2 linked regions of the Homo sapiens genome follow. The protein of the gene in region 2 purifies or fractionates together with the protein of the main gene of each other region. This does not show direct contact. Each region holds a gene or a part of one and is shown on either strand. Other genes may lie near its edges.

Region 1 (3,500 bases), on a different chromosome or scaffold from region 2:
ATCTCCAAAATAAATAAATACCCAAGCATGGTGGGGCGTGCCTGTAGTCCCAGCTACACAGGAGGCCCAGGCAGGAGGATCACTCTAGCCCAGGAGGTCAAGGCTGTGTGAGCCATGATCCTGGCACTGCACTCCAGTCTGGGCAACAGGGCAAGACCATATCTCAAAAAAATATATATGGTGGCAGAGGACAGTGGCTCATACTTGTAATCCCAGCACTTTGGGGACGCCGAGGCGGGTGGATGACCCAAGGTAAGGAGTTTGAGACCAGCCTGGCTAACATGGCGAAACCCCATCTCTAATAAAAATACAAAAATTAGCCAGGTGCAGTGGTGCGCACCAGTAGGCCCCAGCTACTAGGGAGGCTGAGGCAGGAGAACTGCTTGAACCCCAGAGACGGAGGTTGCAGTGAGCCGAAATTGCACCACTGCTCCTCCAGCCTCAGCAAGAGACTCCGTCTCAGAAAATAAATAAAATACAGAATAGCTAGCATATCCATTTACCTTTCGGGCGCATGTAATTAATAATTCAGAATGTTATGTACACTATGATTACAATGTGTATGGAGGAGTATATGTCAGAGTCCTTGCTGTGTCAGGACTCCGTCTACTGGCAAAGTACCCCCTGTGCTTGAGTTAAACCACATCCAGGAGCTCAGTTCCATCTCAAGTTCAAGATAGTCTTCAGTCAATATTGGGAAATTTATGGCCAGGCAGTGGCTCACTCCTGTAATCCTAGCACCTCGGGAGGCTGAGGCTGGCAGACTGCCTGGGCTCAGGAGTTCCAGACCAGCCAGGGCAACATGGTGAAACCCAGCGTCTACCAAAATACAAAAACTTGGCTAGGCGTGGCAGCGCGTGTCTGTAATCCCAGCTACTAGGGAGGCTGAGGCAGGAGAATCCCTTGGACCCAGGAGGTGGAAGTTGCAGTGATCCACCAGGCGGAGTTGCAGTGAGCCGAGATCGTGCACTGCACTCCAGCCTGGGGGAGAGAGACCCCGTCTCAAAAAATAAATGAATAAATAAATAATAGTCCGGGCGTGGTGGCTCACACCTGTAATCCCAGCACTTTGGGAGGCCGAGGTAGGTAGATCACCTGAGGTCAAGAGTTCAAGACCAGGCCGGGCGCAGTGGCTCACGCCTGTAATCCCAGCACTTTGGGAGGCCGAGGCGGGTGGATCATGAGGTCAGGAGATCGAGACCATCCTGGCTAACAAGGTGAAACCCCGTCTCTACTAAAAATACAAAAAATTAGCCGGGCGCGGTGGCGGGCGCCTGTAGTCCCAGCTACTGGGGAGGCTGAGGCAGGAGAATGGCGTGAACCCGGGAAGCGGAGCTTGCAGTGAGCCGAGATTGCGCCACTGCAGTCCGCAGTCCGGCCTGGGCGACAGAGCGAGACTCCGTCTCAAAAAAAAAAAAAAAAAAAAAAAAAAAAAAAAAAAAAAAAAAAAAAAAAAAAAAAAAAAAAAAAAAAAAAAAGAGTTCAAGACCAGCCTGGCTAACATGGTGAAACGCTGTCTCTACTAAAAATACAAAAATCAGCTGGGTGTGGTGGTGGGTGCCTATAATCCCAGCTACTCGGGAGGCTAAGGCAGGAGAATCACTTGAACCTGGGAGGTGGAGGTTGCACTCCAGCCTGGGCAACAGAACGAGATTCCATCTAAAAAAAATAATAATTAAAATTTAAAAAATAATAATCAGGAAATCCAAAAGCTTAAGGCTTCGAGCCCCAAATTCTGGCAGTTCAAATTGATGTATCTTATTTATACATCAGACATAAACTCACATTTTTATTTTTCTACCCCATTTTTCTGTTGATCACTACTGACATTAAAACTAGATACTGGGCCGGGTGCACAGGCTCATGCCTGTGACCCCAGCACTTTAGAAGGCTGAGGCGGGCGGATCACAAGATCGGGAGTTTGAGACCAGCCTGGCCAACATGATGAAACCCTGCCTCTACTAAAAATACAAAAATTAGGATAGGCATAGTGGCTCACACCTGTAATCCCAGCACTTTGGGAGGCTAAAGCAGGCTGATCACTAAGTCAGGAGTTCGAGACTAGCCTGACAAACATGGTGAAATCTAGTCTCTACTAAAAATACAAAAATTAGCCAGGCGTGGTGGTGCGCACCTGTAATCTCAGCTACTCAGGAGGCTGAGGCAGGAGAATTGCTTGAACCCGGGAGGCAGAGGTTGCAGTGAGCTGAGATCGCGCCACTGCACTCCAGCCTGGGCGACAGAGCAAGACTCTATCTCAAAAACGAAAAAAAAAAAAAAAAAATCAGGCGGGCGTGGTGGCGCATGCCTGTAGTCCCAGCTACTTGGAGGCTGAAGCAGGAGAACTGCTTGAACTTGGAAGGCAGAGGTTACAGTGAGGTGAGATCACACCACTGAACTCCAGCCTGGTTGACAGTTATGCCCCGTCACAAAAAAATACACTAGATACTAACTTTAATTACAACAAATAAGCAACCTATTTTAGCTGTAAACCAAATGCTGTGCTTTGAAAATGCAATTGCAGTAACAAATGAATAATCCTCTTATGTAATTATCATTTCTTCCCTTACAGTCACACAACTCAGATAAACTTAAATTGGATTTCTAAAAGTAAATTTCCAGATTCTAAAAATGGTAGAAAGTTATGAAATCAAATTAGGTAATTAACTGAAAATTAAATTGACTCAATAGAGGTTTGTCCAGGATTGGATACAAGCATCCTCACTAGTGTATCAAGAGGTTCAAGTCTGGGTCTGCCAACATAACAAATTCCTGAACTACAAGAATAATTTAAAGCCTGTGTATGTGAATGACCATATACTACATGCCATATTTTGGTATCTTTAAGTCCATTTCTTAGATTAAGTAGGTTATATTCATAATCTACCCTATCTTGGGACAACAAAGCCTAATTTTACACACTAAGCTAACAACCTTCCAAAGAGTACTTCTAGATCTTATCCATCAACGAGCTGGCTCTATTTGTCAGGTGCCTCCAGGCATTATCCACAATGTGCAAATACCAAGTGCAAAGGCCCTAGGACAGAAGCATTCCTATAGTTTGAGGAATGAGGACACCAAAAACTTCCATAACTTCTAAAGCACTGTAAGGATTTAATATTTTTATCTTCAGCTAAATGAGACCACTGGAGAGTTCAGAGCTTGATCTCAATAAGGTTTGTTTACCTTCCCTTCATATCTGGACCTAGGGCCTCTTCTGTACCCACCCGTAGACCCAAGTCTTTTGTCTTTTTTTTTTTTTTGAGACAGTTTCACTCTTATTGCCCAGGCTGGAAGGCAATGGCGTGATCTCGGCTCACCGCAACCTCCACCTCCTGGGTTCAAGGGATTCTCCTGCCTCAACCTCCCGAGTAGCTGGGATTACAGGCATGCGCCACCATGCCCGACTAATTTTGTATTTTTAGTAGAGATGGGGTGTTGGGAAAAAGGCTTATCGAGTGCCTGTATAAGCTGGCCATAAAAATATGGCACAGTAAGTT
Region 2 (3,500 bases):
CAATACCCTTGATATCCTTAGAAAAGGTGGAAATACAGACATAGACATACACAGAGGGAAGATGAGGTAAACAGCCATAGGAAAAACATGGCCAACTACAAGCTAAGGAGAGAGTCCTGGAACAGATCTTTCCCTCACAGCCCTAACAGGTCACAAACTCTGCTGACATCTTGACCTTGTACTTTGAACCTCCAGAATCATGAGACAATGCATTTCTGTTGTTTAAGCCAAACAGTCAGTGGTACTTTATTACCCCTAAGAGACTACATAGTCTGGACTTTTCTAAGAAAATACATTATGTAGAGCCCTCATTATCTAATCACCCATCAAAGCCCCATCTCTTAATGCCATCACCTTGGAGATTAGGATTTAAACATATGAATTGTGGGGGACGCAAAGATTCACACCATAGCACAAACTAATACAAAGATATTGTCACATCTTGAAATTTGTGAGTCTGTCTCTACTCTCTCTGTTCTATTCCAATGGTATATTTTTCTGTATATTCATGAAATATTGTCTTAATTTTGAATTTTTCTACTCATTAGTATATCTTGACATTGATTTATGTCTCATTTTCATGCCTTCAGCAAAATAATTTTCTCCATAAATGGTTAACAAATAATTTTTACATTTATTTCCAGGTAAATAATATTTTTCTAGGCATTATAAAATAATTTTTGATGATTACATTTTCTGATATTGCTGACTAAGCTAAATCCATTGTTTTGTAAATATCAACCTTAACCCTAGCCAATATGCTACTTTACAATCATTCTAATATTTTATCTATAAATATTTTTTGTTTCAAAAATAGATATGATACCATCTGTGGATATTTCATGAATATGCTTTGTTCCCTTCTTTTCAATTCTCAAATATTATATTTTACTATTTTTTCTTATCACACTGCATTGGCTAAATTAAATTTTATTTACCAGCTAAATAAAGGCAGTAATAGTGAGCACTCCTCTATTCTCCCTCATTATAAGGGAAATACTTATAATGATTCATTATTTAACATGATATTCCCTGTGAGATTTTTGAAGATGCTCTTAATCTGGCTAAGAAAACTTCTGGTATGTTTATATTTATGTATTTGATAGTAATAGGGGCAGCCAAGATAAAGTAAGCCCATTATAGCCCATTATTTCCACTAATTAAAACTAAAGCCTTTGGAAAAATAAAAAAAAGCAGCATCCTGAGCTTCTACTTTGGCCACCATGGAATAACATAGAACTAATTTACACTCCTGCCTGAAAATCCTGGAGAAATGGACAAAATATACAAAATGGTTTCCAAGACATTGAGCATTAGTCAAAGAAGGACAGTGACACCTGAGAAACGGAAAAACAATGATGCAAACTCTATGACTGCCCCAGCTTACTGCCTGAAAAGAGGTTCTAGGCCATGGTGCAGGGAAAATAATCCAGGCAACGCTCAGTAGCAGCTGAGTTGAGGAAAAGGAACCAAGTTCTGGGAAGCCAATGGGTTTAGCTTTCAAAGGGCATGAGAGGACTGTACAGAGAGGGTCCCCATTAAGTCTTCAGATGACTAGTGATCCGCACATGCATGTGAGGAAATCACCTAAGTCAGGGAAATCAGCTACCCAAAAATATTAGAAGGAACAATCCCTGGAGATCTTACAGGGCTGGGAATAGTTGCTGTTCCCACCAGACATAGGGAAAACATCATAATTCGTGAGGCATTGAGTACAATACTAAAAAGAACATTGCCTCAGCAATAGGGATATATTAGCTCTGTAATATACAGGCAAAACATTACAATAAAAGAAAACTACAGACCAATATAAACATAAATGCAAGAACTAATAGGTAAATACCAGGAATGCAAGGTTGGTTTAATTTTGAAAAATATATCACTGTAATAAGCCAATTAGAATAATTAAAATTTCTATATATACACAGAATCATCTCAACAGACATAGAGAAAGTATTTGGTAAGCCTGACATCTATTTCTAATAATATCAGCAACCTAGGAATAAAAGGAAACTTCTTCAATCTTATGAAGAACAGTTATGAAAAACTTACAGGTAACATCATACTTAATCGTGTAGGATTGAATGAATTCCCAAGACTAGAAAAAACACAAGAATGTTTGCTCTGGCAGAATCTCTTCACCATTGTGATGGAAGTTTTAGCCAGTGCAATAAAAAACAGAAAGAAATAAAAGGCATCTGGATCAGAAAGAAATTAGTAAAATTATCTTAATTCACAGATGACAGGTAATCTATGAAGAAAACTCTGACAAGATATGCAAGACTTTTGTCCTAAAATATATTGTAGGAAATTAAACAAGACCTGGCTGCCTTCCCCACTTCAGGTTCTGCTGAGTGATCAAATGCAGCCTTCAGGAGCCCCCTTGGAACCAAGGGGAGGAGCAGGCTGGCAAGAAGAGGGATGCCCCAGGTCTGAAGGAGTGAGGCAGAAGAACAGGACCTGGAGGCAGGGAACCTAAGGATGATTCACACTCACTTCCTGGAACTGAATCAAAAGGAAAATTCCACCTCTCCACAGTCAAGTAACAAAAGGATCAGAGGCTCCTCCTTTTTGCAAATTATGCCCCCAACTCCCGCTTTCCACTGCATTGCAGATGAAACATGGAAAGTACCTCTAGTTGGTCCTCTCCTGCAACCAGTGAAACTGGTTGTGGGCCACTACTTCATTTACATAGGGTGTAAACAAATTAACCAATGAGAAACCTCTAGAGGGTATTTAAATCCCAGAAAATTCTGCAACCAGTGCTCTTGAGCCCCTTGCTCAAGCCTGCTCCCACTCTGTGGAGTGTACTTTCACTTCAATAAATCTATGCTTTCGTTGCTTCTTTCTTTTGCTGCTTTGTTTGTATGTTTTTACTAAGTTTTTCTTTAAAATGCCAGGAACCAGGACAACTTTTAGTCAAGACCCTCCACTGGTAACAGGAGGAAGATTGGGGAGTCACTCTCTCACTCCCAAACCTCAGAAGAAGGCTTTGCCTGGGGTGCGGATTCCTTGAGGGCCATGACAGGGTACTAAGTGGCCTGAGGATTCAGTGCCAGTCCCAGCTTGCCCTGTGAAACCTCTGAGGGAGGTGGTAGGGTCCAGAGGGAGGAAGCACACATCCAGGCTCTGCTACATGTACCACCCACTGTGTGACCTTGGGCTACTTGTTTAACATCTCTGATCTGTGCTTGGTAAGTGAGATAATATATGTGAAAGGCCAGGCTCTTATGGGGACCCTTGATAAGTGTGAAGGGGGTGGAACCTTTTGGGGTAATCATACTTGCATCCCTAAAGGAGCCTTGAAAAACCTGCCCTCCTCCTACTCTCCTCAGAAACTATCAAAAAAGCAAATGTGCGAAACAAATGTAATTGTTCTTTCCACATTTTGATGGGACCTGAGTTCCTAAGGAGGCAGTACAGAAAAGTCCCCATGCCAAAAAAGAGTGGAAGTGGAAGGAGGGTCTAGGGATAGCAAATTCCAACTCAAACATGTCTCT

Evidence for each region. Proteins that work in one complex are often made in the same cells at the same time.
Region 1: the proteins of FAM111B (region 2) and SLBP purify together in Homo sapiens (co-immunoprecipitation; one large-scale study listed by IntAct). This does not show direct contact.

What each region holds. Positions count from the first base shown.
Region 1 is NC_000004.12:1,705,820-1,709,319, forward strand, and holds part of SLBP (histone RNA hairpin-binding protein), read right to left. Parts: intron 1-3,500. UniProt on the Homo sapiens protein: RNA-binding protein involved in the histone pre-mRNA processing.
Region 2 is NC_000011.10:59,117,237-59,120,736, reverse strand, and holds part of FAM111B (serine protease FAM111B), read right to left. Parts: intron 1-3,500. UniProt on the Homo sapiens protein: Serine protease.